Homo sapiens: one gene and its partners. The protein of the gene in region 1 interacts with the protein of each later gene in a pairwise test. Each region holds a gene or a part of one and is shown in the gene's direction. Other genes may lie near its edges. The genes, in order: TBC1D22B, MID2, CEP63 and CCDC57.

Region 1 (7,549 bases):
GAAACATTCTTTTTAAAAATAACAGCTTTATTGAGATATAATTCACATACCATAAAATTCACTCTTTTAAAGTGTACAATTCAGTGGTATTTAGTATATTCATTTATAGTATAGATGGTTTTGTGCAACCATCACCACTAATTTCAGAACATTTTCATCATCCTGAAAAGAAACTACATACCTGTTTACAGTCACTCCCCATCCACCCCACTCCAGACCCTGGTAACTACTAACCTACTTTCTGTTTCTGTGGATTTACCACTTTTGGACATTTTATATATATGGAGTAATATGATCTGAGGCCTTTTGTGAGTGGCTTCTTTTATTAAGCACAGTGATTTCAGGCTTGTCCACGCTGTAGTATGTATCAGTACTTCATTCCATTTTATGGCTGAATAATATTCCATAGTATACATACACCACATTTTGTTCATTCATCAGTTGATGGATATTTGAATTGTTTTCACTTTTGGGCTATTGTACGTAATGCTTTTATGAACATTTATGCAGAGGTTTTTGTTTGGATATATATTTTCTATTCTTCTGCTGATAAATAGGAGTGGAATTGCTGGGTCATGTAGTAACTTGGTGGAACTAAGCATCTTTTAAGTTCTCTCAGTTATTCACATGAGCCCCATTTACTTAGCACATCAAATGGTCATTGTATTAATGCCTAGAAGATAAGAGGCAATCTCTACCATTGCAGGCTTTGGCAGGTGTGGTGGCCTGTAATCCCAGAATTTTGGAAGGCTGAGGCAGGTGGATCGCTTGAGGCCAGGAGTCCGAGACCAGCCTGGCCAACGTGGTGAAACCCCCCATCTCTACTAAAAATACAAATTAGCTGGGCTTGGTGGTGTGTGCCTGTAGTCCCAGCTACTCAGGAGGCTGATGCCCAAGAATCTCTTGAACCTGGGAGACGGAGGTTGCAGTGAACTGAGATTGCGTCACTCCACTCCAGCCTGGGCAACAGAGCAAGAGATTGTCTCCAAAAAAAAAAAAAAAAAAAAATGCAGGCTCTGAAATCTGACTGCCTAGGTTAAAATCCCAGCTCTGCTTTCTAGCTATGTGATCTTATGGGATTTAATTAACCTCTCAATGCATCAGTCTCCCCATCTCTAAAATAGGGACAGAGTATCTGCTCCATGGGGCTGTTATGAGGATTAAATGAGATAATACATAATAATTGGTTAGGAGGTACACAATAATATTAGCTATTATAAGAAGGATAGTTACGATGATAGTAGCTATCATTTTTGTTTTCTCTCCTTGCTTCAGTTTTTGAAACTGAAATTGAAAAGCTTTGATCTGGTTGGGTGTGGTGGCTCACACCTGTAATCCCAGCACTTTGGGAGGCTGAGACAGGTGGATCATTTGAGGTCAGGAGTTCGAGACCAGCCTGGCCAACATGGTGAATCTCCGTCTCTACTAAAAACACACAAAAAAATTATCTGGGCTTGGTGGCACAAACCTATGGGGGAAAAATAAAAAAGCTTTGGTCAGTGTGTGTGTGTGTGTGTGTGTGTGTGTGTGTGTGTGTGTGTGTGTGTGTGTCTAGAGCTCGGGCACAGGAGAAAAAAAAAATCACCTTTTTTTTTTTTTTTTTGAGATGGGGTCTCCCTCTGTTGCCCAGGCTGGAGTGCAGTGGCACGATCTCAGCTCACTGCAGCCTCTACCTCCCAGGATTAAACGAGTCTCCTGCCTCAGCCTCCTGAGTAGCTGGGATTACAGGCACATGCCACCATGCCCAGCTAATTTTTGTATTTTTAGTAGAGAAGGGGGTTTCGCCATGTTGGCCAGGCTGGTCTTGAACTCTTGACCTCAAGTGATCTCTTGACCTCAAGCCCACCTCAGCCTCCCAAAGTTCTGAGATTATAGGTGTGAGCCACCGTGCCCAGCCCTGGCTAATTTTTGTATTTTTTGTAGAGACAGGTCTTGCCATGTTGCCCAGGCTGGTCATGAACTCCTGGGCTCAAGCAGTCTGCCCACTTCATCCTCCAAAAGTGTTGGGATTACAGGCATGAGCCTCTGCGTCTGGCCAAAATCGAAATTACCTGAGTCTTCCAGGCCCTTCGTTGTTAGAAAGAGAGGCCAAGTTAAGAACTTGAAGCCGATCCTAAAATAATAATGAATCTGATAGGAGACTTAGTGTAAAAGTCACAGCCTGTCTGGGCAGGTACATTACAACTTGTTCTTGGCTTGGAGATGTTTTACTGGTAGAGTGAGTGACTAGAAGATACTAAATTATCATCGAAACAGCATAGATCACCTGTTCTGGAAGACTAATGTGGAGTGAGTGTGTGAACCTACATCAGTTGCCAACACGTTTGGCATTTAAATTTGATGGGTCTTTTTCCCATATTTGCACTAGCTCTTTTATCAGTGCTAAACAAACACCTGTTGATTTTTCCTACCAAGATGTTTGCACTGTTTCAACTAGGCAAAACAGCTATGTCAATACATTCTATGGTGTTGGTTTTATTAAAGAGAGTGACGGAGATTAATCAGAACTTTTGTTCCATTTTGTCTGCGTGGCAGCATATTCCATGGCATTCTTTTCTCTGCATATGTGGTGTGATTTCTTCGAGATGCAGTGTGTTAACTAACCTCTGGTTTTTAGGTCTAGCTTAAGTGGAGGCCTAGGTTTTGTAGAGATCTAATCTTCACTTACTAAATATTGTTAAGTGCCTGCTGGTATGTGTCATGCTCTGCCAGGTGGCAAGGGGGCTACAGAAAAAGATATGGCACCACTATGGCTTTCTAGGAGCTAAAAAATCTGCTTGGCATCATGGCTTCCCCTGGAGAAGATGCTGTGTATGATTGACTTTCTGGTTTTTCCACTAAACATATGTTATATTTGTAATCAGACAAACTTAAAAGTGGAATTGGGTGAAAACACATTGTTGAATGCAAAGAGCAAGATGTAGAAAGATATGTGCAATGTGCAGTCTTTTATGTGAAGTTTAAAAACATAAAAAATACTGTGTGTTGTTTATGGATCTGTGAATATATGTAGAGGAATAAAAACAGATGGGAGGAGTTCCCTCCAATTTCAGAATAATTGTTATCTCTTGGGAAGTGAAGAAACAGGACTAGGGACTGCAATTAGGGCATCAGTAGTCTAACACTTTGTTTTTGTTTTGTTTTGTTTTGTTTTTTTGACATGGAGTCTTACTCTGTTGCCAGGCTGGAGTGCAGTGGCCCGATCTCCGCTCACTGCAACTTCCGCCTCCCGGGTTCAAGCGATTCTCCTGCCTTGGCCTCCCGAGTAGCTGGGACTACAGATGCGTGCCACCACACCCAGCTAATTTTCTTGTATTTTCAGTAGAGATGGGGTTTCACCATTTTGGCCAGGATAGTCTTGATCTCCTGACCTCATGACCCACCCACCTTGGCCTCCCAAAGTGCTGGGATTACAGGCGTGAGCCACTATGACCGGCCTAACACTTTTTTTCTTAAATGAAATGTGACAAATGTTAACATTTGTAAATCAGAGTGATGGGTTTGTGGATGTTTATTATATCATTTTCTGTACTTTTCTTTGTGTTTGAAAATGTCAATTAAATGCTTTTTCACTTGTGTTAGAGCAAATGTTTTGTATTTTTTTTTTTTAACTTGTGTTGGAGAGATCAGCCAGTTAGCCATGGAATTAAGTAAAATTTAAAGTAACATGATTTAGAGTCAAAATAAGTCATATTTACAGTGTGATGTTATTTATATAAAGTTTAAAAAACATGCAAAATCATACATTATTTAGGGATACATACATAGAAAATAAAAATATAAAAATGAGTGTGAAAAATGCCAGATCCAATAGAGTGGCTTGCTAGGAAGGGAGGGAGGGGTATGCCAGGGTGTTTTGTTTTGTTTGGTTTTGTTTTGTTTTTGACACGGGGTTTCACTCTTGTTGCCCTGGCTGGAGTGCAATGGCACGATCTCGGCTCACCGCAACCTCTGCCTCCCAGACTCAAGCAATTCTTGTGCCTCAGCGTCCTGAGTAGCTGGGATTACAGATGTGTGCCACCAAGCCCAGCTAATTTTTATTTTTAGTAGAGATGGGGTTTTGCTGTGTTGGCCAGGCCAGTCTCGAACTGCTGGACTCAAGTGATCTGCCTGCCTCGGCCTCTCAAAGTGCAGGGATTACAGTGCCCAGCCCTGATTGTGTCTTATATTATGATCTAAATCTAGTTTATTTTTAAAAAGTAATATAAGCCCTAATTTATGTATGTTAGGGAACTAGAGAAGACATGAGTTAGTAGATGCTGGGGGTAGGGGTATGGAAAGTTTCATGAGGGGTGTAGAATTTGAAGAGAATGTTGCAGGATGGATACAATTTTGAAAAGGGATGTAGAAAATAGAAAAGCATTCCAAGTAGGGAAAAGAGCCTTATTTAATAATGGGTTTAATAAGTTTGGAAGGTGGAGTGGAGATCAGTCTTTCTTAGAGCTGAGTTTGGGTTTGGAAGGAGTAGGTATGGTACAGACAGTGAAAGGTGAATTATAAATGTCAGGAAATTGAGCACCTTAATCATTGGGCTCTTCTGGTCTATCTCCATTTAGTCTCTGTGATCATCTCGGTTTCTCTTTTCTAAATTCTTGCCTGTCTTTTTTAAGCTGCAATAAGCTGATTTATTATACAAAGTGTTCCAGTTTTAGATACATCATGGTTCAGTTCAAGAATATGTTAACAAATTCAATTTGGGCCCTGATACCTTTGCTGATGAAGTCCATCATTTATCTTAGCCTTCCTGGCTATGCCAGCACCTTGGGCTGACAGCTTTAAAAAATAGTCTACTGTGATTTTAAGATTCCTTTCCTAGATGGTAATTGATGGCCTCTGGCCCTTCAGCCTGCACAAATTAGGTTTGCTTTTCTTCTGCATGGGTTACTGGCAGATGGTAATACTTCTTTAAGGTAATACTCTCTTATTTTTCTACCCAGTCACCTTACCTAACCGGCCTGTTGAGATCTTCCTGCAGTTTATCCTCTGATTTTATATTTTATTGTGAGGAGGGCTTGTGGGCTTGAAGAATTCAGGTGTACTCTTAGATTATTTGCAGCTGCTAATGTGCATATCAGTAGCCCTTTGGGTTTTTTTTTTTTTCCCGTGGTCAGTGGGGGTGTCTAACACCCCCTTCCTCTCTCAGCAGAACTTTCCCTTTACTCTTTGATTCCTCTTTTTTTCTCTCTGCCTAGGAAACCCTTTAAACACATCAATTAGTATTGTTTTCAAAGTTTGTATTTCTGTAGTAATATATGTAATAGTTTGCTTACACATTACTTATTAATCTTCCAGAGAGGTTTAGGGAGTAAAGATTCTTATAGCTAAAGAAGTAGGGACTGTATTCATAAATTAAAGATTATATGTAAGATTTCCTCTGAAATCTTAATAGGAATCAATGTGAAAGTGATTGATTTGGCTATATTTTTATTTAAGAGCATCCTTTAGGATCACCTCTGTTATGTGAAACAAGTATTTGGTAAGCTTGTTTCAATTTCTAAATGTTGAGTATGGATTAAATTATAAAAATGGGAGGGAGGAAGAAAATCAACATTTCTTGGGCACTGAGTGTTTGCTGGGTAGTGTTCTAACATTTGCAAATCTACGTCACTTCCTGCTTAACATTAAATTAGCATTACCACCCACCAGGAATTGTGCTAAAGGGCTTTCAACATATCGTCCCACTTAAACCTTCTAACCTTCTCAAGATCGCTTATTTCTTATAAAGGTGATACTTGTACATGATACTAAATCAGAAAGGGTTTGCAGTGAAAACTAAGTCTCTTTGGTGTCCCATCATCTTCCAGTCATCTGGTTCCTATTCCAAACTGCTGCTACCAGTGTCTTTTGTATTCTTTCAGATACTCTGATATTCTTTCAGATACATAGACCTAATCATACATAAAATGCATGTATCTATTTTAAAGATTTTTATAAAAATGGTGTCATACATGTAGTTCTGCATCTTTTTTCAATTAATGTCTGAGTTTATTTCATGTCAGTGAATATAGAACTGCCTCATTCTTTTTTTTTTTTTGAGACGGAGTCTTGCTCTGTCCCCCAAGCTGGAGTGCAGTGGTACAATCTCGGCCCACTGCAACCTCCGCCTCCCCAGCTCAAGCCATTCTCCCGCCTCAGCCTCCTGAGTAGTTGGGATTACAGGTGCCTGCCACCATGCCCGGCTAATTTTTGTATTTTTTAGTAGAGATGGGGTTTCACCATGTTGGCCAGGCTGGTCTTGAACTCCTGAGCTTAGGTGATCTGCCTGCTTTGGCCTCCCCAAGTGCTGGGATTACAGGCGTGAGCCACCGCACCTGGCCAGAACTGCCTCATTCTTTTTAAAAGATATACTGTAATTTATTTAACTACTTTCCTGTTGGTAATTATCCTTTCTATTTTAATAGGTAAGTTAGCTCCTTTATATTTATTGGAATAACTGATATATTTAGTTATTTAGTTTAAGTTCAATTTTTAATATTTTCTTCGTCTTTTTTTTTTTTTTTTTTTTTTTTGAGATAAGGACTTACTCTGTTGCCCAGGCTATAGTGCAGTGACACGATGATAGGTCACTGTAGTCTCAAACTCCTGGGTTCAAGTAATCCTCTCACCTCAGCCTCCCAAGTAGCTAGAAGTACAAGCATGCACCACCACAGTTGGCTAATTTTTAAATTTTTTGTAGGTACAAGGTCTTGCTACGTTGCTCAGGCTGGTCAAACTTCTAGCCTCAAGCAGTTCTCACACCTCAGCATCCCAAAGTCCTGGGATTACAGATGTGAGCTACCATGCTTGCCCTTTTAAAAATATTTTCTTCTTAAAAAAGTCTTTCACTATGTGGACTGTGCTTGCTTTTGAGGGGAGGACATACATATATATATATATATACACACACACATATATAATATATATATACACACATATATAATATATATACACACATATATAATATATATATACACACATATATAATATATATATACACATATAATATATATACACACATATATAATATATATATACACATATATATAATATATATACACTATATATAATATATATACACTATATATATAATATATATATACACTATATATATAATATATATATACACATATATATATACACACACACATATATATATTCTGATAATTTGGAAGATTTATCTTTTTATTTTAGTGATTGTGTTTATAAGTGTAACTTTATACCATATTTCTTCAGACAGTACCTGTTGGCTCCCTACCATGAGTAATGATGAAATTAGTAAGTATATTTCCTCACCCCTCTCTTCCCACCTGCTTCTAGTTGATTATATTATTTTTCTTGGTTTTATTTTCTGTCGTAAAACATCCATATTCGTCTATTAACATTTGCAAATCTACATTAGGATTTAATGTTAAACAGGTAGTGACATAGATTTGCAAATTGAGCTATCTGCTTTAAATATCTTCTGAGCCCTGTCAGTAAAAGATGAAGAAGTCAATGCACTTCATTTGTCCATTTTTTCCTCCTTTTAACATTTGCCAATTATATTACTTTGATGTTCTCTTTGCCTCAA
Region 2 (7,549 bases), on another chromosome or scaffold:
CCTCTCGGGCTTAAGCAATCCTTCTCCCTCAGCATCTCAAGTAGTTGGGAACACAGGTGCATGCCACCACACCCAGCTAATTTTTGTATTTTTTGTAGAGATGGCGTTTTGCCATGTTGCCCAGGTTGGTCTGGAACTCCTGAGGTCAAGCTGTCTGAGGGCCTCGCCAAGTGCTGGGATTACAGGCGAGAGCGACAATGCCCAGCCTACCTCTTTTATTTATAAATTACCCAGTTTCAGGTATTTCTTTAAGGCAATGCAAGAATAGCTAATGTAGTGGTTAAAACACAGGTCCAGGAGTCAAGAAGATCAGAGTTCATCCCAAATATGATGATACATTGGCTTATGGCTTTAGGACATTCCTATGACTTTTCTTTCATAGTTGGTGCACTTGTGTAAAAGCTATAATATTGTGTACTGGGTATTGTTAGTCTTGACTTGGTCCTTTGAAGATGAAAGGGTTCTGTAAACCCTCAGCATTATACTTTTTTTTTCCTTTGAGACGAAGTCTCGCTCTGTCACCCAGGCTGGAGTGCAGTGGTGTGATCATGGCTTGCTGCAGTCTTGACCTCTCTGGCTCAAGCAATCCTCCCATCTCAGCTTCCTTAGTAGCTGGGACTATAGGCACACACCATCACACCCGGCTAATTTTTGAATATTTTGTAGAGACAGGATTCACCATGTTTCCCAGTCTGGTCTCAAACTCCTGAGCTTAAGGGATCCACCTGCCAAGTCCAAGTGTTGGGATTACAGGTGTGAGCCACCACACCCAGCCAACATTATACTTTTCAAAGAAAGCACTTCCTTTACCTTTTACTGAGTTAGTGGATTGACTGGGTGTAAGCAGGAATCTTAGCTTACTGAAAACCTTTAGCTTCCCACCCCCAGAGCCAAATCGTATCATTGTACGTAGGTCCTAAATCTGGTTTTTCTCCAATACATGTTCAACTGAATGAAAACATACATGCAACTAGGCATACAGAGTAATAATGATCAATTTAAGTTGAGGCTTGAATCATTTCTAATGCACTCTAACCTAACAATCTGAGTCAGACTAATTTGAAGACATAACCTCACCCATTTTTTAGCCTATATGGGGGCAGTTTGTTAGCTTCTAATGAAAAGTGTCATAAATAATTTGGGGTATGGCTATATAAGCATGATTAGCACCTAGTAGCAGAGTCAACAATATTAAGCACCTATAATGTGCAGAGGACCTCTGCTGATTGGGCTGAGGCCCCAGATTTAGCCCAGTATTTTGGCCTCCTGCTTGTTCCACGCCAAACTCCATACTTGCAACTCCAGGATTAGGTCAGGGAGGGGCTGTGCAGGACATGGGTAGAGGCTAGGGACATGAAAGGGTGGTTGTGTCCCTCTTATTTGTTTTCATGACTACTAGAATTCTCGTCTGGCATGTTGCACCCTGCAAGGCCACCTCTGGGAAGTACTCCTGTAAATCAGAGTGACTTGATTGCTTTATGAACATATCATCTGAATGGTGCAAATTGATTTAGATAAAACTGATTTAGTTAATCCCTTCCCTAAGAGCAGGGAAACTTGCTTCAACTCGCAGATCCTAAAGTGGTGCCAGTGGAGTCTCACAATTGCATCCAAATATTGCTCTGAGTAGTGAGCCTGTCCATTCCTTCATCCCTCCTCCCATAAAATCTGCTGACACCACAATAATTGACAAGGGAACTACACAAGGAGTATGTCTGTCTTCATCATTCAGCAAACCTCATTGGCTTGGTGAAGAGGAGAGAATGTTGTCTTCTCATTCTATCCCATAGAACTCAAGCTCTGTCTTTTCAGACAGGGACACAGAGCCCTTAAAAGGGTGAAGACAGGGCTGTGGGCACAGAATATGTCTCAAATGGCTGCTCTTGGAAATACCTGCTTGGTCTTGTGTGTGTCTGCCATTCAATCTTTATGAATCTTGGTAATATCCTTGCTGTTAGGCCATGGGGCTCGGCTGCTAGTAGAGGCCAGGGGGTGCTCCATTTCCATTTAGCATTAAGTTTTTGTCCTCTCTTTGGCACAAAAGCGAGAATGAAGCTCTGTGTTCATGAAGCACTCCTTACTCATTAAGCTGGGTGTCTTGACTTAGAACATTGCATCATCAAAATATGAGATGTAACATGTTGATACTGGATATACAACAGTTTTGGATAATTCAAAATTGTTTACATTTTGATAAATGAAATTTTGGTACCAAGATGGTGTTGCACTAACATCTGTACTTCAGGTCTCTCAAAAAATATTGTGTTCATCACTAAGCAGTGTACAGAAGAGACTAGAAAAGTGTTTCTCAACTGGTGTGTTGGGTCATGCTAGCAAGTGAGAAGACCAGATGAGTGGTGTTGAGACAAGAAATTCCAGCTGTAATTATCTTCTTGTACAGATAGCTAATCTACTTTTTATTTACCTCCTCAATATATTAAATATGTTCCTTTCTCCACTTTCATGTATTAAAACTCTGCTAAGAGTTTTCTGTGGGCTTAAGTAGTCTGTGGCTGTTTCTATTTGTTTCTCTCTTTCTGTCTTCCCCTTCTTTATGACCATAGGCAGATATAATCCTTTTGATGATGAATCTCCCAGATGCTGAGTTTTCTTTTAGAAATTCTATAAATTACTAAGACTACTAGATAGTATAAGATGCTTAAAGTGTGGGTGGTGGAGGGATTTTGAGTAATGTGCCAGCATCCCATTATTTCCTTTTCCTTGTGGGATTCACCTGAATACACTCTAGGATGCTGGTTCAGCCTAAGTGGGTTGGCAAAGTATCATTTGTAAGCATTATCCTACTTGGGTTCTGGCCTCCCTGCAGAGCTCTGGCTGCCTGACCTTGGGCTTTGTCTCAGCTTCCTTCCCGTAGGTCAGACTCCGCTGGTTGATGAACGGCATCCCCAGTCTCTGGATCATCGTCTTACTGAGACCGAACAATCTGATAACAAACCCATCATACAATCTGAAATCGTCCTGAAACATGAAATCCCAGTATTTGCAATTTGCCTGGATAGGAGCATAATGTATGGGCATGGCAGACAATGCTAATTCATGACAGTGAAGTGTCTTAATATATACAGCACAGAGATAGAAAAATGGTTTACGATCCAGATCCTTGATCACTTTGTGTATAGCCCTTTGTTCAGTGTTGCTAGGATCCATGTGGTTCCCAGGGAAGTAGAAGCTTGATTTCAAATAGGCCTCTGTTCTCTGTCCCTTGTTTCTGACCTGAACTTGGGGTCCTCTCAGCCTAACATTCAATAACATGTCTTACATACATATATTGCCATTTTTATTGTGTAGATGACTGCCTGTCCAGGTGAACCACTGAACATTTAAAAACTTACAAATATTTTGTTGGGTAACAGAGGTTAGGAAAAGCAATCCTAGAGGAGATGGAAAGCTGTACCAGTAGTCATAGGTAAATTAAGTTTGTTTTCCATTTGTTCCTCAACCCTGCAACTGCCAGTGTAATCTGCATTAAGATAAAGGTGTTATGAATTGTATTTAGGATTCCTGTCAATTATCATGTGTTACCTTGGCAAATCCATTTGTTGGTTACTTGGATTAACCTTTTGGGTTTGTAGCAGATTTAGGACTTCTAGTTCTGCTATTTTGATACTCATTTTAATGTTTATATGATGACTATCTTGTATAAAATACTCAATGTTTGGATTTAAAAACTAATTATTGAAAAGAACATACATTAATTCCATGTACTATAAAATATTAAGTAGGCTTTAATAACCTATTAGACAGGAGCTGGCACTGGTGCTCTCTGCCAGTCGGTAATCAGCCTCCAGTTCTGAGTTCTCCCTGTGCAGGATGAAAGTTTAAGAGAAAAGAAAAGAGACAGCCCTTCACTTGGAGAGGGGTGGGGATCCCAGTCTAAAAGTGAAGACATGAGCATAACAAATACCATGATCAGTCCCATGATCTTCCAGAAGTCTTGTGGAGGAGTGTGATTGTCTGCCATTATGTCAACCATGTGTTTGGGATGAATTTCCAAACATTTTTGGCTTTTCTTAATAACTTGCTTTGTTTCTATAATCTATGAATGTATGATGAGAATACCTGTATTTGTAAAGTAAACTAATACTTTTATTTTATCCTCGTCTGATCCTCACAATAGCCCGTGAGATGGGCAGGGCAGGTATTTTTCATCTGATAGATGAAAAAGCTGTGGCCCAAAGAGTTTAAATGTACCTAGGATTGCTCGGCTAATTTGGTTTAGATCCAGGACTACAACCAGGCTGTATTATGAGGGTCAAATGAGATAATGGCTTTGAAATAATTTGAAAAGTATAAATTGATATACAAATGTAAGGTGGCTATTATCAATTATTATTACTGACCACCTAGCCTCTTCTGTCTAGGTTTCTATTTTCAGTTCTTATCCTATAGTGTGTGAATTCGATGCATTGGTTGCCTTTTGTGTTCCAAAATGATCTGCTTTGAGCTTCAAGGGGTTCTTTTCTAATCATGGTGTTCTAGAATTTGGATTTTGGTTTCTTTTACAGCCCCCAAATATATTCTCATTAGTTTATATTCCCATGGGACTCTTCTCCCCTTTAGTTGTCCTCTGGAACATCCATTATGTCTTTTTTGAGATACAACAGACAAAAACCACTGTACTTTGAGCATCTTAGTAATGCATTTTGTTTATGTCCTGCTCCAGTGGCTGTGATGTCTATCACTTGTTAGCCTTCCTAGTCACACTAATAAATAAAAGTTGTGTTTTTAGGAGCTAGTTTACAATAATCCAAGCTGTCTTTTTATGTGGTAACAGATAGCAAGAGCTCTATAATAATCGGATGTCAGAGCTGGAAAGCATCTTAAAGAGATCGTCTGGTGATTCTAGTTTAGCTTGAACATTTTACAGTTGAGGAAACATCAGACTAGGCCAGGACTCATTTGCTCCTTACCCCAAGGCAGGGAGACAGTTTCTAATACTTTAAGGAAGAACTCATGGGACATTAATTTTAATATCCTGAAGAATGTTTATTTTATATATATATATATATATTTTTTTTAAAAACCTACAGCTCAGCTCATTTCTCAATCTACAGCCCAGAGATCAGGCTTGGTTTCACACTCATGGATTTTCTATGAAGGGAATACTATAACTCCTCAGGAAGGTAGTGGGAGCTCAGATACATGCTTTGCAGACCCGGAAGAAAAAAAATTAGATGGAATAATAATTGTTAATTAAGTGGGCATTTAATTATGCTCAAGTAACCTTTGAAATAATAGAATTATGCAAAGTACAGATCACGACTTCTCTCTTGATCAGAGTTAGCTAAAGGCTAGATTTGGAGGACAATGCTGAAATCAGTCTTTTATTTCATAAGTGTAGGATGCATTATTTTTACGTTTTTGAAATTTATTTTTTATTTTTATTTATTTTGAGACAAAGTCTCATGCTGTCACCCAGGATGGAATACAGTGGCACAATTACGGCTTACTGCAGCTTCGACCTGCTGGACTCAAGCGATTTTCCCACCTCAGCCTCTCAAGTAGCTGGGACTACAGGTGCATGCCACCACACCCCACTAATTTTTGTATATTTTGTAGATATGGGGTCTTGCCATGTTGCCCTGGCTGGTCTCGAATTCCTAGGCTCAAGCAATCTGCCTGCCTCTGCCTCCCAAAGTGCTGGGACTACAGGTGTGAGTCACCACGCCAGACCCATTATTTTTTATCTTAATCACCTTCATCAAAACTCCTTTTGTATTTCTACCCAGTTATACAGCCCAATGGTACCTTCTTCTAGTTTATGCTCATCGACTTCTTTTTTCAGAGGTCTCACCCTGTAGTAAGGCACAAGGTAAAGAAAAGCCATACAGAAACAAACATACATATCTGACTATATATGGCAGTAACTAAATGGTTTGGAAGGGAACTAATCAGGGTGTGTGGATGTGGACATTTGTTTCTTAATATGGCAATTGATCGTGCCCTCTCAGGTATTTCATCAATGCGTTTTTATGACAAATTGTAAAAACTTTCAAGATTACCTGTCATTGAGTTGCACCCTATCAGATTCACATCCTGTCTTCATCCTTAGCATACTCTCTAACTCTGTATAGATTAGTGATTCACAAACTTTTTGAAATTGCAACAGTTTGCCATTGTTTAATTTTTGTCATGCCACTTCCTCCTGCTAAAAGTATTTCATGATAATAGGAGTCAAATATTTTTCAGGAGTCACTTATATACTTTTTAAAGTGAATAAAAATTGGGAGCTGAGAATTTTGTAACACTCATTGATCACTAGAGATATCCCAGGGTATTGCAAAACCTAGACAGGGAATCATTGACCTAGAAAAACAATTGAAAGGAACAAGCAATCCAATAGAATTTATAAATACTATATAATCACACAGTTGTTAGTATAGTATAGTGATTTGCTGTTTACACCCTGGAGTCAGACAGACCTGGGATTGAATCTCTTCTTTAAAAAAATTAGATGTAATTCACATGCCATAATATTCACTATTTTAAAGTATACAATTCAGTGGTTTTTGGTATCTTCACAAAGTTGTGCAATCATCGTCACTATCTAATTTTAGAACCTTTTCATCATCCCAGAAAGTAACTCCATATTTGTTAGCAATCACTCCTCATCCCCCATCCTCCCCTGCCCTGCTCCTGGCAACCATTAATCTACTTTCTGTTCCTTTGGGTTTGCCTATTCTGGATATTTCATAAAAAAGGAATCATACACAAAAGGAGCCTTTTGTGACTGGCTTCTTTTACTTACTGTTTTCAAAGATCATCCATGTTGAAGTATGTATCAGAACTTCATTCCTTTTTATAGCCAAGTAATATTCCACTGTGTCTATCCTTTCATCAGTTGATGGACATTTGGGCTTTTCCCTTTTGGCTACTATGAAGACTGCTGCTATGAACATTTGTGTACAAGTTTTTGAGTGAACACATTTTCCATTCTTTTGGGTATATACCTAGGAGTGGAATTATATGGTAACTCTACATTTAGCCTTTTGAGGAACTGTCGAACTATTTCCCAAAAGCAGCTGCACCATTTTTTATTTCTACCTGCAATGTATGAGGGTTCTAACTTCTCCAAATCCTGGCTGACGTGCTGTTTTCCGGTTTTTGTTTGTTTTGTTTTATTATATTTTAGCCTTCTTAGTGTGAAGTAGTATCTCAATGTGGTTTTGATTTGCATTTTCCTACTGGCTAATTATGTTGAGCACCTTTTCATGTGATTATTGGCCATTTGTATATCTTTGGAAAAAATCTATTGAAATCCTTTGCCTACTATTAAATTGAGTTACTCATCTTTTTTAATCTTGAGTTGTAAGAGTACATTTCTAGAGACTAGACCTATATCAGATATAATAATATGATTTGCAAATATTTGCGCCTAGTCTGTGGGTTGTCTTTTTACTTCATTGATGGTGCTTTTTGCAGCACTCAAATTTTAAATTTTGATAAAGTACCATTTATGTATATTTTCTTTGGTTGCTTATGCTTTTGGTGTCATCTGAGAAACTGTTGCCTGCCTAACCTAAGTTCA
Region 3 (7,549 bases), on another chromosome or scaffold:
TGATTGTTTACTCCCTTGTGTTCCCTGTTTTCCCTCTCCCTCCCTACTTACCAGTAGATGAAATTCTAGCTGGTTATTAAAAGAAATACTGCTGGATACTTGTGGAGGTGAAGGCTTGGCAGAAAATAGGTGTCACTGGTATCAAATCATTGAAAAGTGGGTTAGGATAACTTCCTTACCATGGTTGGTGGAACTCGTTTCTCTGGAGTTGGGTGAATGGTAAAGCAGGCACAAACCTCCTTTTGTTTTCCTGTCTGACGTTACTATTCTGTACTTTATTGTAGAGAAATTATTCCTAAGGTCTTCTAGATTTTTTATGAAGTATTGTTGGTTTCCAGGACTCTCAACACTTTATATTTCTTATTTTCATGAGTTTTTTTGATGAAAAGGGTTGAGTAGGATAATCAGACAGAGAGACACAGTTTCGGCCGGGCGCGATGGCTCACGCCTGTAATCCCAGCACCTTGGGAGGCTGAGACAGGTGGATCACGAGGTCAGGAGTTCAAGACCAGCCTGGCCAAGATGGGGAAACCCTGTCTCTACTAAAAATATAAAAATTCGCCAGGTGTGGTGGCATGCGCCTGTAATCCCAGCTACTTGGGAGACCGAGGCAGACAATTGTTTAAACTTGGGAGGCAGAGGTTGCAGTGAGCCAAGATTGCACCACTGCACTCCAGCCTGGGCGAGAGTGAGACTCCCATCTCAAAAAGAAAAAAAGAAAAAGAGAGAGAGTCTTCATCTAAACCTAGAAATTCTAAAAACTAGCTGTTTGTTCACTATTTTTTGGCAGTGTAAAGAATTCTTAAATAACTAGGTATTTGACTTCCTAAGAAGTGGGGTATCACCATATATATGCATTTGAGAACTTGAATTTACAAATAAATACAGAGATTATTTTCTATTTTTATATCTCAGGGATGTTATTTCAATGCTAATAGTGAAAAATACTACCACCTTTCTGCTTTTAGGTTGGAATGTTGCATCAGCAGGTAGAAGAACATGAAAAAATCAAGCAAGAGATGACCATGGAATATAAGCAGGAGTTGAAGAAACTACATGAAGAAGTGAGATTTTAGTTTTGTTAAATGTTGTGTGTGTAGTTCTCTCTCTTTCACCCTTGAGAACTTTGTTAATGAAAGCCAGTTTCTACTTTGTAAAGTGGGAAATACATACTCCATCAAAGATACAGGAGTGGGAATCCATTTCTCTGTTCTTTAATCCAGGTAAAGAGGTTTGCCTAACTGTAGGTTTGATACTACCTAGAAGAGATGCTAAAATATGTTTCTTGGTTGAGTACCTGAAAGAAATAGAGCTGTTTTTATGTAATACTGTGAAATACTTGATACCAAAAATTACATTTAATATTTTAATTTTTATCAGTTACTAGATTATAAATAATGGAGGATCCAAAGATTTAAGAAACATTTTGGGATAAATAAGACAAGTAAGAAAATTCTGTCCATTAACTCAATTTTATTCTTCAGATTTGGAAAAAACTGCTTTTATTCTGATTTAATTGCAAAGTACTCTTCTCCTGCATCCTGAATATCAGTGCCCTGCAAGAGCATGGCTTGAGAATCACAGACCTAGAGGAAAGAAAAAGAGTTTTTATTTGCTGCTTTATTGTGGGGCTGGGTGGTAGGGTCTTTAAGTGCAGGGCTATTGTAATACAAAACTTTTGTTTAAAATTTTTTTTAAAATTTTTTCTTTGAATATATTTCTTTAGTAGTGTTTGTTTTACATATTTAATTTTTAGTTTCCTTTTGTGTTTTAGTTTGGAAATCTAACATGTTCTCAGTAGTACTGGTTAGCACTGCTCTTGTTTTCATAATACCAATTTGTCTCACCACTACTTCTTACAAATTCTTAAACTTTAAATATAGAAATAACTGTTTCTACAGTTATGCATACTGAAGAGAAGCTATGAAAAGCTTCAGAAAAAGCAAATGAGGGAATTCAGAGGAAATACCAAAAATCACAGGGAAGATCGGTCTGAAATTGAGAGGTTAACTGCAAAAATAGAGGTATGTTCATAGTAATAATTTGTTCATAGTGATTGTCAGCCTTCACGTAGGAAAATGCGGTTTCTAATGGCACTATTTTCTGGAACCAATTTTCTACTATCTTAAGGACTGCCACTAAGCTATTTCAGAGGTGAGAGGGTGATCCACCATACATCCTATCATCATCTAGTTCCCTGGGTTAACGGGGTTACTGGCCATCAGTAATTCTCAACAGGGCAGTACCACCCTTAGGGAGCATTTGCAAATGTACGGAGACATATTTTTTTGGTTGTCAAAATGACTGAGCTTAATAAAACTGGCATTTAGGGGACAGGGACCAGGGATACTAAACATGCCTAAGAGTGTTCCACACAGGAAGGATTATTGTACCTCAAATGCCAGTAACTCTCCAATTGGGAAACATGACCACTAGTTATAGGCAGTCCTCTATGGACATTGTTCTTGTCTTATATATCATTGTATCTCAAGCACCTAATAAAGTGGGGGCTTAGTAAATGTGGAAAGTACATGGCACTTTTCGTACAAAGTAATCTCTGTATCAGATTATTCTCAATTCCCATTTAGATGTAGTAAGGCATTCACTTCCTTCTCTGCTGACTTTGTTTTTATTAAGACTGAATAACTCCATGATTATTGTATATATTGAGAACTTAAGGGGAGCTGGTGAGCTAATAGTACCAAGAGTAGATGAAGGAAGAGCACAAGGCTGTCATTCTCTTCGTCTGTCCTTGCCATTAGTTCTTCACTGGACATAAGAATTCCCAGGGTGCTTTTAGGCTCTCAGAAATGCTGATCCAGCAGTATGGCATAGGACCTAGGGATCTGCATTGTATCCAGCTCCCCTAGCTTATTCTGATTTGAGAAACATTGTTCAACATCTTTGTGTGATCACTTACAAGTTTGTACTCTGGGTGACCTGTCACCCACAAATGCCAGTATATTATTATTACTTAAAATTATAATTTCTGTGTTTAATATTCCTTTATATCTCAATATTTTTTTACATTTGAAGAGCTTAGAATCAGAAGACTGCAGCTACTGCTTCCCTTCCACCCTTTTCGGCAATACCTTTTCCCCCCAAACCCTATATCCTTCTTGCTTCTCATTGCCACTTCCTGACTATTCTCTTTTCTTTCTACCTCAAAAACCCCATCTTTGATTTTCATGTTACCAGCCTATACTGCCAGCCAATGAACATAACAACCAAAATAGTCATCGTCTGACCTCTGGGTTATTTCCTTGGCTCATTGATTTCAGCACCCAGCTCACTGTCAATTCTCTCTGACATTACTCTTATCATAACTTTGAGGATCTTAGGATCTGGAGAGATGATGCTTATAATACTCTGACCTTACAGTTTCTTGGCTTTCTTTCCTCCATAGATAGTTTGATTATCTTTGTGTCTCATCTACTTATTCCCACTGCCATTCCTTAGCTCTTGTCATTACCAATATATGCCACCCCTCTAGAATCTCATTTTCAAGCATTCAATTATCAGACTACCAATCCCTATCTTTTCAGCTAACTCTCTCTAGTCCTTTGACTCTCAGTAATCATTAACCATCCCTTAAAATGATTAAATTCTGCCACCTTTTTACTGCTCCATTATCTACTTGGTGTTCTCACTTATCGGTCCTTAGCCAGCTTTTAAATTCTGTCATTACATTTTTTACTTTCCCCTTCATCTCCTGTGCTCCTCTCTTGCTTCCTCATATTTGCTTGGCAGAATCACAGTTCTGCTTAAGTCCACCTTTCTGCCCACTCTCTACCTGTCATGTATCGCTGAACGTGGCTAGAGAAAAACCTAATCATACTGTCTGTTCTCACTTTAAATTCATGGTCACTAACCTCAAATGGGTCCTAATGCTACCTGGAATCATACTGTATTTCCTCTCATCTCCTACTTTCCACAATGAGTATTTCAGACTTCTGCTTTTCTCCTCAAACTCTCAACACCTTTCCCCACATCCTCACCTTTGGGTTATATCTTCCTTTCTGTTTATAGACTTCCAACTCTTGTGTCCACCCACCTATCTGCATCTGTGCCCATGTACCCTGCCTTCCTTCCTGGAGGAACTACGCATGCCCTCCCCCTTTTCTACCCAAGGCATTACCTTAGCAGTTCACCTTCTCTTTTCTGCACCCTTAATTTTTTTTCTCTACTGGATATTTTTTACCAGCATCCAAATTTCCCTCCTCTTAAATATCCTCTCTTGACCCGTCTCTTCCTCCTCTGCCCCATTTTATTTCTTCCATTTTATAACTAAAAAATTACTTCAGTCATCTATACTTGTCTCCAGTTCCTCTTGTCTCATTGTTCTTGTACCCACTCAATAAGGCTTTTGTCCCCTCACACTGCAGAAGCTGTTCACATAGAGGTCACCAGTGACTTCCACATTCCCAAAGCCTGTGGGCTGGTCCTTATCTTCCTCATCCTACCTACAGCTTTGTAGGAGAGCTGGTCTCTCCCAACTCCTTAACCACTTTCTTGACTTGGCTTGAGAAAAACCACATTTCTCTCATTTTTTCCTTGTTCATCACTCCTCAGTCTCCATTATTCCTTAACCACCTAGGGTCATGTCATTGGACCTTTCCTTTCCTTTTTTTTTTTCCTATCTACGCTCACTCCCCTATTGATCCCATTGAATTTCATAGCTTTAACACTGTGTATATGCTGACAATTCCTAAATTTATATATCTAGCCAAGACCTCGCCTCTTCATGACAGAATAACTTTCAACTGCCTGTTTCCTATCTCCACTATGATGTCTAAAATGTGTCAAACTTAACATGTCCAAGCTAAAGGTCCTGTCTTTCTCTTCCTCATCTCCCCAACACTGATTCATGTTTTAGTTGATAACAACTCAATTTGCTCAACCTAAAACCTCGGAGTCATCCTAGACTTCTCTTTTCTCAGCATGATAGCCAGAATGATTCTGCTGTAATGTAAGTCAAATTATATCACTTCCTATACAAAAACCTTCCAGCAGCTTCTCTTAAAAATCTGTTATCCTAATGGCCTACGTGGTCTCATTCCCAGTTATCTCTCTTACCTTGTCTTCTCCTACTTTCCCTTTCATTCACTTTATTCCAGCCACACCAATTTCCTTTCTCACCCTTAAACACACCAGGATGCTCTTATTTCAAGGCTATTCTTTCCACCCAGAATATTGTAACTTCACCCTCATCTCCCTAGGTGTTTACTTAAATGTTTTTCACTCAGTCTGGCCATCCCTTTTAAAAATTACAACCCCAACTGTGAAGACTTCATGCTCTGTTTTCTCCAAAACGTGTATTACCATCTGCTATACCATACAAGAAATGTGTCATCTGTTGCCCCCAGTTGAGTAGGACTAGGGTTTTTGTTTGTTTTGTTAAGTATTGTATCCCTGACTCCTAAAGCAGTACCTGGCATATATAGTAGAATGATTGAATGAATGAATGAATATCAGAAATTTGGTTAACAACACTTATCTTAAGGAGCCTGAGACTTCTGGAGTTGAGGGTCCTGGAAGACAGTGATAGAAAGATTGAGTTTCCTTTCCCTTTGATTTGCCCCATTTTCATAAATATTGAAATCACTTTCTTGATCATGCAATTTGATGTTACTATTGATCCATCATTAATTTTGAACTGTTTGGCTTTGGGTTACAAATATTTGTTAAAATTTGGTACAGATTTTCTTTGTTATTCAAACTTTTGCAGTTCCTCTGTTGAGATAATACAAATTTGGATATCAAAGGATATTGTGTTATCTGAATCTACTTGGTTCCTTAGTTTTAGATACTGGGAAGTAAGATTTGGGTTACCAAGGGACTTATCTGAAAATTTAATCTGTTCAATTCCTGGGTCTGGATATCAAGAATTTGGATAGCGAGGGATATCTGTAATCATACTTTAAAATTTTAGTTATCTTAGCATCAGTTTTCTGAAAATTCACTAGAAAATTATAACAACCCTTAGGTGGCAGCAAATCAGTGAAAAACATCTGAATCCAGTGCTTAACATCTGCGTGTCATACTCCTCACCATCAGGGTGTTAAATTTAGAAAGACAGATATCCAGAGGCACAGTATGTGAGGAAGTTAGTATTACTCTCCAGCTCTGTTAGCTGAGTGAGTAATGGGGCTCCCGCTGTGGAGAAAGGTGCAAGCGTACCCAGGGACATGGGGAGAAATTAAAGTTAAAGGGAGTCTGGGAAGTAGTGACAGTGAGGAGAAGCACTCAGAAATTAAGTACTCTAATTGCCTCCTCAGGAATTCCGTCAGAAATCGCTGGACTGGGAGAAGCAACGCTTGATTTATCAGCAACAGGTATCTTCACTGGAGGCACAAAGGAAGGCTCTGGCTGAACAATCAGAGATAATTCAGGTAGGCCTAAGACTTTTTAAAATAATGAGAAGCAGATAGGTTTTGATCAAGTTTGAACTACCTTAATGCAGTGTCCTAGTACCATTTAGCCTCTTTCAGCTTCTCTCCACGAACCCTGCTCTCTTGTTTAGGAAGCCTCTCCTCAGCATCTAGACTCAGCTCCTTCTTCCCGCCTGCCCTCACACATGCGTGCATTCACTCTCCTGTCCAGGCTCATGTCCTTGTGCCCGCTTGCTGCTTTGCCTCCTTGCTTGTTTCTGACTTGCTCACCCACTCTCTGTCATTGTCTTGCTTACTCAGGCTCACTCTATGCTTGCATCCATGTTCACTCTCCTCATCTTGGTCCCTAGCTTTGTCGCCCTCTCTTCCTCCCCTCTCTTTCTTCCCTACCACAGTCCCATTCCTCCCTCTGTCTCCTTTTCCATGTCTTTCTGTCTCTTGTTGGGTCTCTCAGCTCTACTATAGTCTGTGCCTTGCTCCATCCCTATGGTCACTGGGGTATCTTGGCCGAAGTGTCTCAGCTAGGGAGCTTCAGTTAGTCTGCCTATGCGGACAGATACGGAGAGAGTCACATGGCAATGGTGTGCACACCAACTAAAAGTGGTGTCTTTGTGGTAACAAAAACACTTATTTTAGAACATTGATAGAAACTTTTCTTGTAATGGCTTAAGCAAAACCAAAAAACAGACACCTACTTTAGGAATATGTCTTGTAAGAACATATTCAGCTCATTCCTTTTTCAGTTAGAATCAAGAACATAAAGGAAACTAAAAAAATTTGTGATCATCTGTTATGTGCTAGACATTGACCCAGTGCTTCTTGTATGTGTTCTCTGTTTAATATTATGATAATCTGTCAAGGTTGGTAGTTATCTTAGTTTTATAGAATGAGGGAACAGCCTGGGTAAGTTGAAATAGCTAGAAGGGAGGGTTTTTTTTTTTTTTTTTTTTGGCTTTTTGGGTTTTTAAAAATAATCTGCATTTATTTGCTATTTTAAGTCTCAATAATGCATTAACTTTTTGTTCGTCTCCCTGAAATATCAGCAGTCTGATAAACTACCGACAGTGGCTGTGGCTCTGCTGTGAGTGACTTCATTCAAAATGGTAGGAAAAGTCCACAACAATTGCAAGGAAGAAATTTATTTTCTAGGCCACAGC
Region 4 (7,549 bases), on another chromosome or scaffold:
CTATACACATGCAAATCTATTTCAGTATATCTGTGTCTCTGTATATATTAAAAACTGGCTGGGTACAGTGGCTCACGCCTGTAGTCCCACCACTTTGGGAAGCTGAGGGGGGAAAATCGCTTGAGGTGAGGAGTTGGAAACCAGCCTGGCCAACAAAGTGAGACACCCATCTCTATAAAAAATTACAAAATAAATTAGCCAGCCATGGTGGCGTGTGTCTGAGTCCCAGCTACTCTGGAGGCTGAGGTAGGAGGACCATCTGAGCTCAGGAGTTTGAGGCTGCAGTGAGCTATAATCATGCCACTGCACTGCAGCTCGGGTGACAGAGTGAGATCCCATCTCAACAAACAACAAACACCAAAAAAACCTGTGAGTTTATTACAAGTTACGCACTTGTAATCAAGTTAGGTTCACCTGTTTCTACTTCATTTTGAGTCCTTACTGATTTTAAGTTTTTTTGTTTTTTGTTGTGCTTTGTTTTTGGCACATGAAACATGTATACGTGGTTCTAAAAGTCCGCAAAGTCTAAACTCAACTACAAGACTTCGACTTCAACTTCTATTTCTCACTTACTCACTTTTTTTTGGCAAATGCACGTTCAAAGAAAACAGCCCTTCATGTTCCTTCGTGGTAGTGGTGCCCCTCTTCTCCAGCAAGTGCCACTGACAGAATTCAGACCTACTGCCCATCTCTCTTATTTCAGTTTTAGAAATGGCTGTGGCTACTCTTCGGCAGTCAGTGGAGGAAGTGAAAAAAAACACGGGGTCACAGGTACATAATTTTTGTCCCCTGGACCTATTTAAAGAGTAGATGAGAGGCTGGGTGCAGTGGTTCACACCTATAAGTACGTGGGAAGATCGCTTGAGCTGTAGCTTTTAGATGGGCATTCGAGGCTGCAGTGAGCTGTGATTGTGCCACTGCACTCCATCCTGGGTGACAGACTGAGACTCTGTTTCAAAACAAAAGAGTAGATTACTGAATTTGGCCTCCCAGAGGGCTTAGCAGCACTCTCTGGAATCCAAGAGGGGCCACAAGAGCTAAATTCAGTACATTTAAAGGTGAGAGGATCATTTGAGGCCAGGAGTTCAAGACCAGGCTGGACAATATAGTGGAACCCCATCTCTACAAGAAATTTAAAAAAAAAATTAACTGGGCATGGTGGTGCCTGCCTGTAGTCCCAGCTACTCAGGATGCTGAGATTGAGTCCTCTGTCCTGAGTACAAAGTGAATGAGCCACCCCAGACCTGCCTTCCAGTCCCAGGAAGTGTCTTATAAGTTAAGGGTATTAGGCCAGGCACGGTGGCTCACGCCTGTAATCCCAGCACTTCGGGAGGCCGAGGCGGGTGAATCACGAGGTCAGGAGTTCAAGACCAGCCTGGCCAAGATGGTGAAACCCCATCTCTACTAAAAGTACAAAAATTAGCCGGGCATGGTGGCGGGCGCCTGTAATCCCAGCTACTTGGGAGGCTGAGGCAGGAAAATAGCTTGAACCCAGGAGGTAGAGGTTGCAGTGAGCCAAGATCGCGCCACTGCATTCCAGCCTGGGCAAGAAAACAAGACTGTCTAAAATAATAATAATAAGTTAAGGGTATTAAATATATTTATACATGGAGGTCATAAAAATATATATATTTGGGCTGGGCGCAGTGGCTCACACCTGCGCCCGGCCCTTTGGGAGGCCGAGGCAGGTGGATCACCTGAGTTTGGGAGTTCCAGACCAGCCTGACCAACATGGAGAAACCCCTTCTCTGTGTATTTTTAGTAGATTTTATTTTATGTGTATTTTATTCACAGGTATTTCTGGAAAACTCAAACTGTTTTTCCTCTACTCTGATACCACAAGAATCATCAGCACAGAGGAAGACTTCTGTGATCAAATGTGGTGGGAGAGGGAGGTTTTCACCAGCACATGAGCAGTCAGTTCTGCCGCAGACTCGGCGGGTGTCCTTCGGTTCAGTTCCAACACCGCCTGCCTGGAGAGAGGTCAGACCACAGGGTGAGGGCTCAGTCCCCAAGACATAAACACCCAAGACATAAACACCCAACAGGTCCACCCCGCCTGCTGCCCAGGCAGAGCCGATTCACCAAGACGGGAATTAGGATAGAGAAAGAGTAAGTCACACAGAGCCGGCTGTGCGGGAGAACGGAGTTCTATTATGACTCAAATCAGTCTCCCCAAGCATTCGGGGATCAGAGTTTTTAAGGATAACTTAGTGTGTAGGGGGCCAGTGAGTTGGAGATGAAAGCGTAGGGAGTCGAAGGTGTCCTTTTGCGCCGAGTCAGTTCCTGGGTGGGGGCCACAAGATCGGATGAGCCAGTTTATCAATCCGGGGGTGCCAGCTGATCCATGGAGTGCAGGGTCTGCAAAATATCTCAAGCACTGATTGATCTTAGGTTTTACAATAGTGATGTTACCCCAGGAACAATTTGGGGAAGGTCAGAATCTTGTAGCCTGTAGCTGCATGACTCCTAAACCATAATTTCTTTTTTGTTTTTTTTTTTTTATTTTTGAGACAGGGTCTCACTCTGTCACCTAGGCTGGAGTGCAGTGGTGCAATCACAGCTCACTGCAGCCTCAACGTCGTAAGCTCAAGCGATCCTCCCACCTCAGCCTGCCTGGTAGCTGAGACTACAAGCGACGCCCCAGTTAATTTTTGTATTTTTGGTAGAGGCAGCGTTTTGCCGTGTGGCCCTGGCTGGTCTCGAACTCCTGGGCTCAAGTGATCCAGCCTCAGCCTCCCAAAGTGCTGGGACAACCGGGGCCAGTCACTGCACCTGGCCCTAAACCATAATTTCTAATCTTTTGGCTAATTTGTTAGTCCTACAAAGGCAGTCTAGTCCCCAGGCAAAAAGGGGGTTTGTTTCGGGAAAGGGCTGTTACTGTCTTTGTTTCAAACTATAAACTAAGTTCCTCCTAAACTTAGTTCGGCCTACACCCAGGAATGAACAAGGAGAGCTTGGAGGTTAGAAGCACGATGGAATTGGTTAGGTCAGATCTCTTTCACTGTCTGAGTTATAATTTTGCAATGGTGGTTCAAAGACTGCCCGCTTCTGACACCAGTCGCGAGTCCTGGCCTCCGGAACTTCTGACTGACCACTGGCTTCAAGTTGGGGTTCCCACAGCCCCCTCTTTGGGTTCGATTGATTTGCTGGGGTGACTCACAGAACCCAGGGAAACACATACGTGTAACAGTTTATTATAAAGGGTATTACAGAGGATACAGATGAGGAGATGCGTAAGGGGAGATATGGGGGAAGAGGCTTCCTGGAGGACCCCCCCACACCCCACCCACCACTCCCCAGGAACCTCTCCACACCCTGTCCTCTTGGGTGTTTAGGGAGGCTTCCTGAAGTCAGCATTCCTTCCCCCAGGGTAGAGGGTGGGAGCTCTGGGGAGGATCTTATGACCTACAATGGAAAGTCAGGTGAGAGTGGAGACCTGGAAGGATTCTGTTTCCTGAGGCCTGACACGCCCAACATTGCAACAAAAGACTGTGACGTGTGAGAGTTATGAGCCAGGAACTGTGCAAGAAAACCATGATGTGTCATTGTACCACAACAGGTAAACCTACAACATCACCGTTAGCTCAGCTCAGTATTTTTAAAATGAGAAAATCAAAGTGATGGGATGCCCACCCATGCTGTTCCAGCCCCTGCTGGGAGCTGGCTGGTTCAGGGAGCCCCACTGGTTCTCCTGAAAGAGGGTGAACGCACAGCGAGGCCTTCCCTCCCCGGCGGCTTCTCCTGCCGCTCCCCAACCCGGAAGCTTCATGGTCCTTCTTGAAACCAGGTGCTTGCTGGGGACGCCTGCTGGCCGACAGGCAGATTGCGTCCAGATGCTGAGTCCGTGCTTTTGAAAGCCAATTAATCTCAGCCTTGGGGCTTTGGGGATCATCCCGAGATGGGATTTGTACAGAAACAGAGCAGGCCGTTCTATGATGAGGTCAGAAGGAAAGGCGAGCCGAGCCCGGCTGACTTACAGGCCCTTGGTGTGTGGGGCTTCTTATGGGTCCTGAGTGTGATGGATAAAGCGCTGGAGATGCTGGGCTCTCACCGGGTGCTGCACCGAGTCACTTGCTGTATGGATTTTTCAGGCTGCTCTTCTGTGCAGAGCACAGAGGCCTGGGAGCACCCATCTCACATAGAGGGGGTGGTACGTGCCATCTGCCTGTCCTGGCTGCCTGAAGCTTTTGAAAACAGGGTGACCCGCTGAGTCCTGAGACCTGGTGGGAAGGAACCTCACCCAGTGGGGAGATGGGGGCATGGGGACCTGGAGTAGCACGTGCACAGGAACTGGCAGATAAAGGCTGCTCTGGGCCTGCAGGGAGCAGCTGGAGCCACGCAGGCTGGGCCGTGTCCTCGGTCTGTCTTCATACGCTGTGCCAAGGAGATCGGACTTTATTTTGAAAATGGTCAGGAGTCGCGGGCACATTTGAGGCCAGATAAGATTGCATGATCAGATTCTCAGAACGGCAACCCCCATGGGTGGCTGCGACCAATGAGTTAAGGAGGCAAGCCCAGTGGCAGGGCAGCTGGTACAGGACGGGGGCCACAGCAGTCCCTCAGAGAAGAGGCCCGTAGACCTCGCAGACCTCAGGCTCTGCAGAGAACCGTTGTCATGACTCACGGGCACTGTGTGAAGGGTTCTGAGTCATCAGAGATCACAGTGGTGTTCCATCATTTAATGTGTATTTGCTGATAGTCCAATTCTTTCCCTGTGTGTGCACAGGTGTGTGCACAGGTGTGTGCATGTCCTCTGTGTACAAAATGTTTCAGTCGCCAAGACTGTGCCAGACAGTGGGACTCACTACACCCGACACTGGGGTGATGGCGTTGTGCCAACGTGAGATGGAAGTTAGGAAAGCTTCCCTGCAGTGATGTTCAGGTTGAGGTCCCACTGGCAGGAGGAGCCTGCCCTGCGGTTAGGAGGAACCTTGCAGACAGAGCGGCACCTGCCACACATCCCAGGCTCTGAGGGCACGTGGCAGCGACAGGCAGGAGCCTGGGGTCCAGATGTCCTCAGTGGAATGGGAAGCCTGGTTAAGCCTTTTTTTTTTCTTGAGATGGAGTCTCTCTTTGTTGCCCAGGCCGGACTGCAGTGGTGCGATCTCAGCTCACTGCAAGCTTCGCCTCCGGGGTTCACGCCATTCTCCTGCCTCAGCCTCCCAAGTAGCTGGGACTACAGGCGCCCACCACCACGCCCAGCTAATTTTTTGTATTTTTAGTAGAGACGGGGTTTCACCGTGTTAGCCAGGATGGTCTCAATCTCCTGACCTTATGATCCGCCCGCCTCGGCCTCCCAAAGTCCTGGGATTACAGGCATGAGCCACTGCGCCCGGCCCTGGTAAAGCATTTTTGAAAAGATTCCTTTGGCAGCCAAAAAAGTGGGAGTGCACAGCAGAGGCCAGTTGAGGTCTCTTGTGGTAAGACACTGTGGTGGCCGAGGTGTGGGCACAAGGTGGGAGACAGCAAGAGGTCAAGGATCATTACACGGGGTGGACGGTGGGGCCGTTGTAGGAGCTGAGGGAGACGAGGAACAGGAGCGTGGGAGAGTGCTGAGATGGTCGGTAGGGACCCTGTTAGCTCCGGCAATGGGTGGGCACGCAGCAGCTTGGAGGAGCCAGGCTGAGGTGGTCCAGGTGGCGTGATGGTCCTAGGGTGCTGGGCGCGGGGGTTGCATCGCAGGAAGCATGTGGGATGGAGGAGACCGTCTTTGCTCCAGAGCCTCGTCAGAGAAGCGCCGTCTCAGGACCCCCAGGGAGCCCTCGTGCCCCCAGCGGGTGTGCCCTGCTGACCAGCCCTTTCTGGAGGGGCCCACGGGTCTTGCAGCCCCTTACCCACCTCCTCCTTGTGCTTCGTCACAGCCGGTGCTCAGCCTGGCTGTGCCCTTGTACCCGCTCCCTCTGGGAGTTGGGACTTTGTACAACCATTGCTGTGCCCCGAGATGCAGAGGTGCCCGGAGATACAGAGGTACCCTAAGACAGGCTGGGGCTTTTTCCTGCTCTGGCAGCAGCACCCCGGCCATGTCCCACCAGGCCGGAAGTTTGTGCTTGTCCCCCAACTGGGTGTGGCCCTTTTAGGCCATGCAGTTCCCCTGTGTGGACACCAGAGAAGAGTTGTGGGGGATTTCTGTGTCCAAATCGAGCTCATACTTGGACCTCTAAAGGGTTGGGGGCAGCTAGGACCAGCCAGAAGAAACTTTATCTTTTAATAGACCACTCACTGCAGCGTGGAACTCCTGAGTTTGAATGACCCACCCACCTCAGCCTCAGAAAATGTTGGGATTGCAGGCGAGAGCTACTGTGCCCAGCTTATTGGTTTTTGTGATTTTTGTTTTTAAATTTTATTTTTTGTAGCACTTTATTTTTATGGTTTTACCAAAATATCAGTCCATGATGAACAAATAAAAGAACAAAAGAATGTACTCTCGGATGGTATATTAGACCATTCTCACATTGCTGGAAAGAAATACCTGACGCTGGGTAATTTATAAAGAAAGATTAATTGGCTCACGGTTCTCCTGGCTGTACAGGAAGCACAGTGTTGGCACCCGCTTCTGGGGAGGCCTCAGGAAACTTTTACTCATGGCGGAAGGTGAAAGAGGAGCAGGCACGAAGCAAGAGGGGAGTGTGAGTGGTGGAGAGATGCCACATCTCACTAGAACTCATTGTCACCACACACTTTGAAATGACCAAATCTCCCCAGAACTCACTGTCACAAAGACGGCACCAAGCCACGAGGGGTCCGCCCACATGATCCAAACACCTCCCACCAGGCCCCAGCTCCCCCGTTGGGGATTACAATTCCACAAAGGTTTGGGCAGGGATAAATATCGAAACCATATCAGGTGGTGAATCTTCCAGGAGCAGGGTGTTGGGTGGGAAGGGGCATTGGTTCTGAGGGACTGACCTGCTGTCAGTCCTCACGTAGCCACTTAGCAGCCTTAGTTTTCTCAGCTGTGAAATGGACAGAGTGCTGCGTTGAAGCTATTTTATAGAACCTAGCTCTTATAGCTGGACAAACCATGTTTCCCATCTTCCCTTCCTCTACTTCCCCTGGATTTCTTTTTTTTAATTTATTTTTTTAATTTTTTGGAGAAAAGAGTCTTAGTGTCGCCCAGGCTGGAGTGCAATGGTGCGATCTCTGCTCACTGCAACCTCCACTTCCTGGGTTCAAGTGATCCTCCTGCCTCAGCCTCCCGAGTAGCTGAGATCACAGGCATGCGCCACCATGCATGGCTAATTTTTATATTTTTAGTAGAGACGGGGTTTCACCATGTTGGCCAGGCCGGTCTCAAACTCCTGACCTCAGGTGACCCACCCACTTTGGCCTCCCAAAGGGCTGGGATTACAGGAGTGAGCCACCATGCCTGGCCTTTTTTTTTTGTTTATTTTGTTTTGAGAGAGAGTCTTGCTCTGTCACCCAGGCTGGTGTGCAACCTCTACCTCCTGGGTTCAAGCGATTCTCCTGCCTCAGCCTCCCGAGTAGCTGGGACTACAGGCACGTGCCACCACAGCAGGCTAATTTTTTGTATTTTTAGTAGAGACGG

What was found.
Region 2: the proteins of TBC1D22B (region 1) and MID2 interact in binary tests that used the Homo sapiens proteins (3 or more experiments, as listed by UniProt).
Region 3: the proteins of TBC1D22B (region 1) and CEP63 interact in binary tests that used the Homo sapiens proteins (3 or more experiments, as listed by UniProt).
Region 4: the proteins of TBC1D22B (region 1) and CCDC57 interact in binary tests that used the Homo sapiens proteins (3 or more experiments, as listed by UniProt).

The regions. Positions count from the first base shown.
Region 1 is NC_000006.12:37,260,446-37,267,994, forward strand, and holds part of TBC1D22B (TBC1 domain family member 22B), read left to right. Parts: intron 1-7,549. UniProt on the Homo sapiens protein: May act as a GTPase-activating protein for Rab family protein(s).
Region 2 is NC_000023.11:107,828,399-107,835,947, forward strand, and holds part of MID2 (probable E3 ubiquitin-protein ligase MID2), read left to right. Parts: intron 1-7,549. UniProt on the Homo sapiens protein: E3 ubiquitin ligase that plays a role in microtubule stabilization. Mediates the 'Lys-48'-linked polyubiquitination of LRRK2 to drive its localization to microtubules and its proteasomal degradation in neurons.
Region 3 is NC_000003.12:134,530,877-134,538,425, forward strand, and holds part of CEP63 (centrosomal protein of 63 kDa), read left to right. Parts: intron 1-968; coding exon 969-1,064; intron 1,065-1,883; exon of another isoform or gene 1,884-1,901; coding exon 1,902-2,024; intron 2,025-6,278; coding exon 6,279-6,392; intron 6,393-7,549. UniProt on the Homo sapiens protein: Required for normal spindle assembly.
Region 4 is NC_000017.11:82,202,294-82,209,842, reverse strand, and holds part of CCDC57 (coiled-coil domain-containing protein 57), read left to right. Parts: intron 1-703; exon of another isoform or gene 704-711; coding exon of another isoform or gene 712-771; intron 772-1,794; coding exon of another isoform or gene 1,795-1,996; exon of another isoform or gene 1,997-3,510; coding exon of another isoform or gene 3,511-3,562; intron 3,563-7,549. UniProt on the Homo sapiens protein: Pleiotropic regulator of centriole duplication, mitosis, and ciliogenesis. Critical interface between centrosome and microtubule-mediated cellular processes. Centriole duplication protein required for recruitment of CEP63, CEP152, and PLK4 to the centrosome.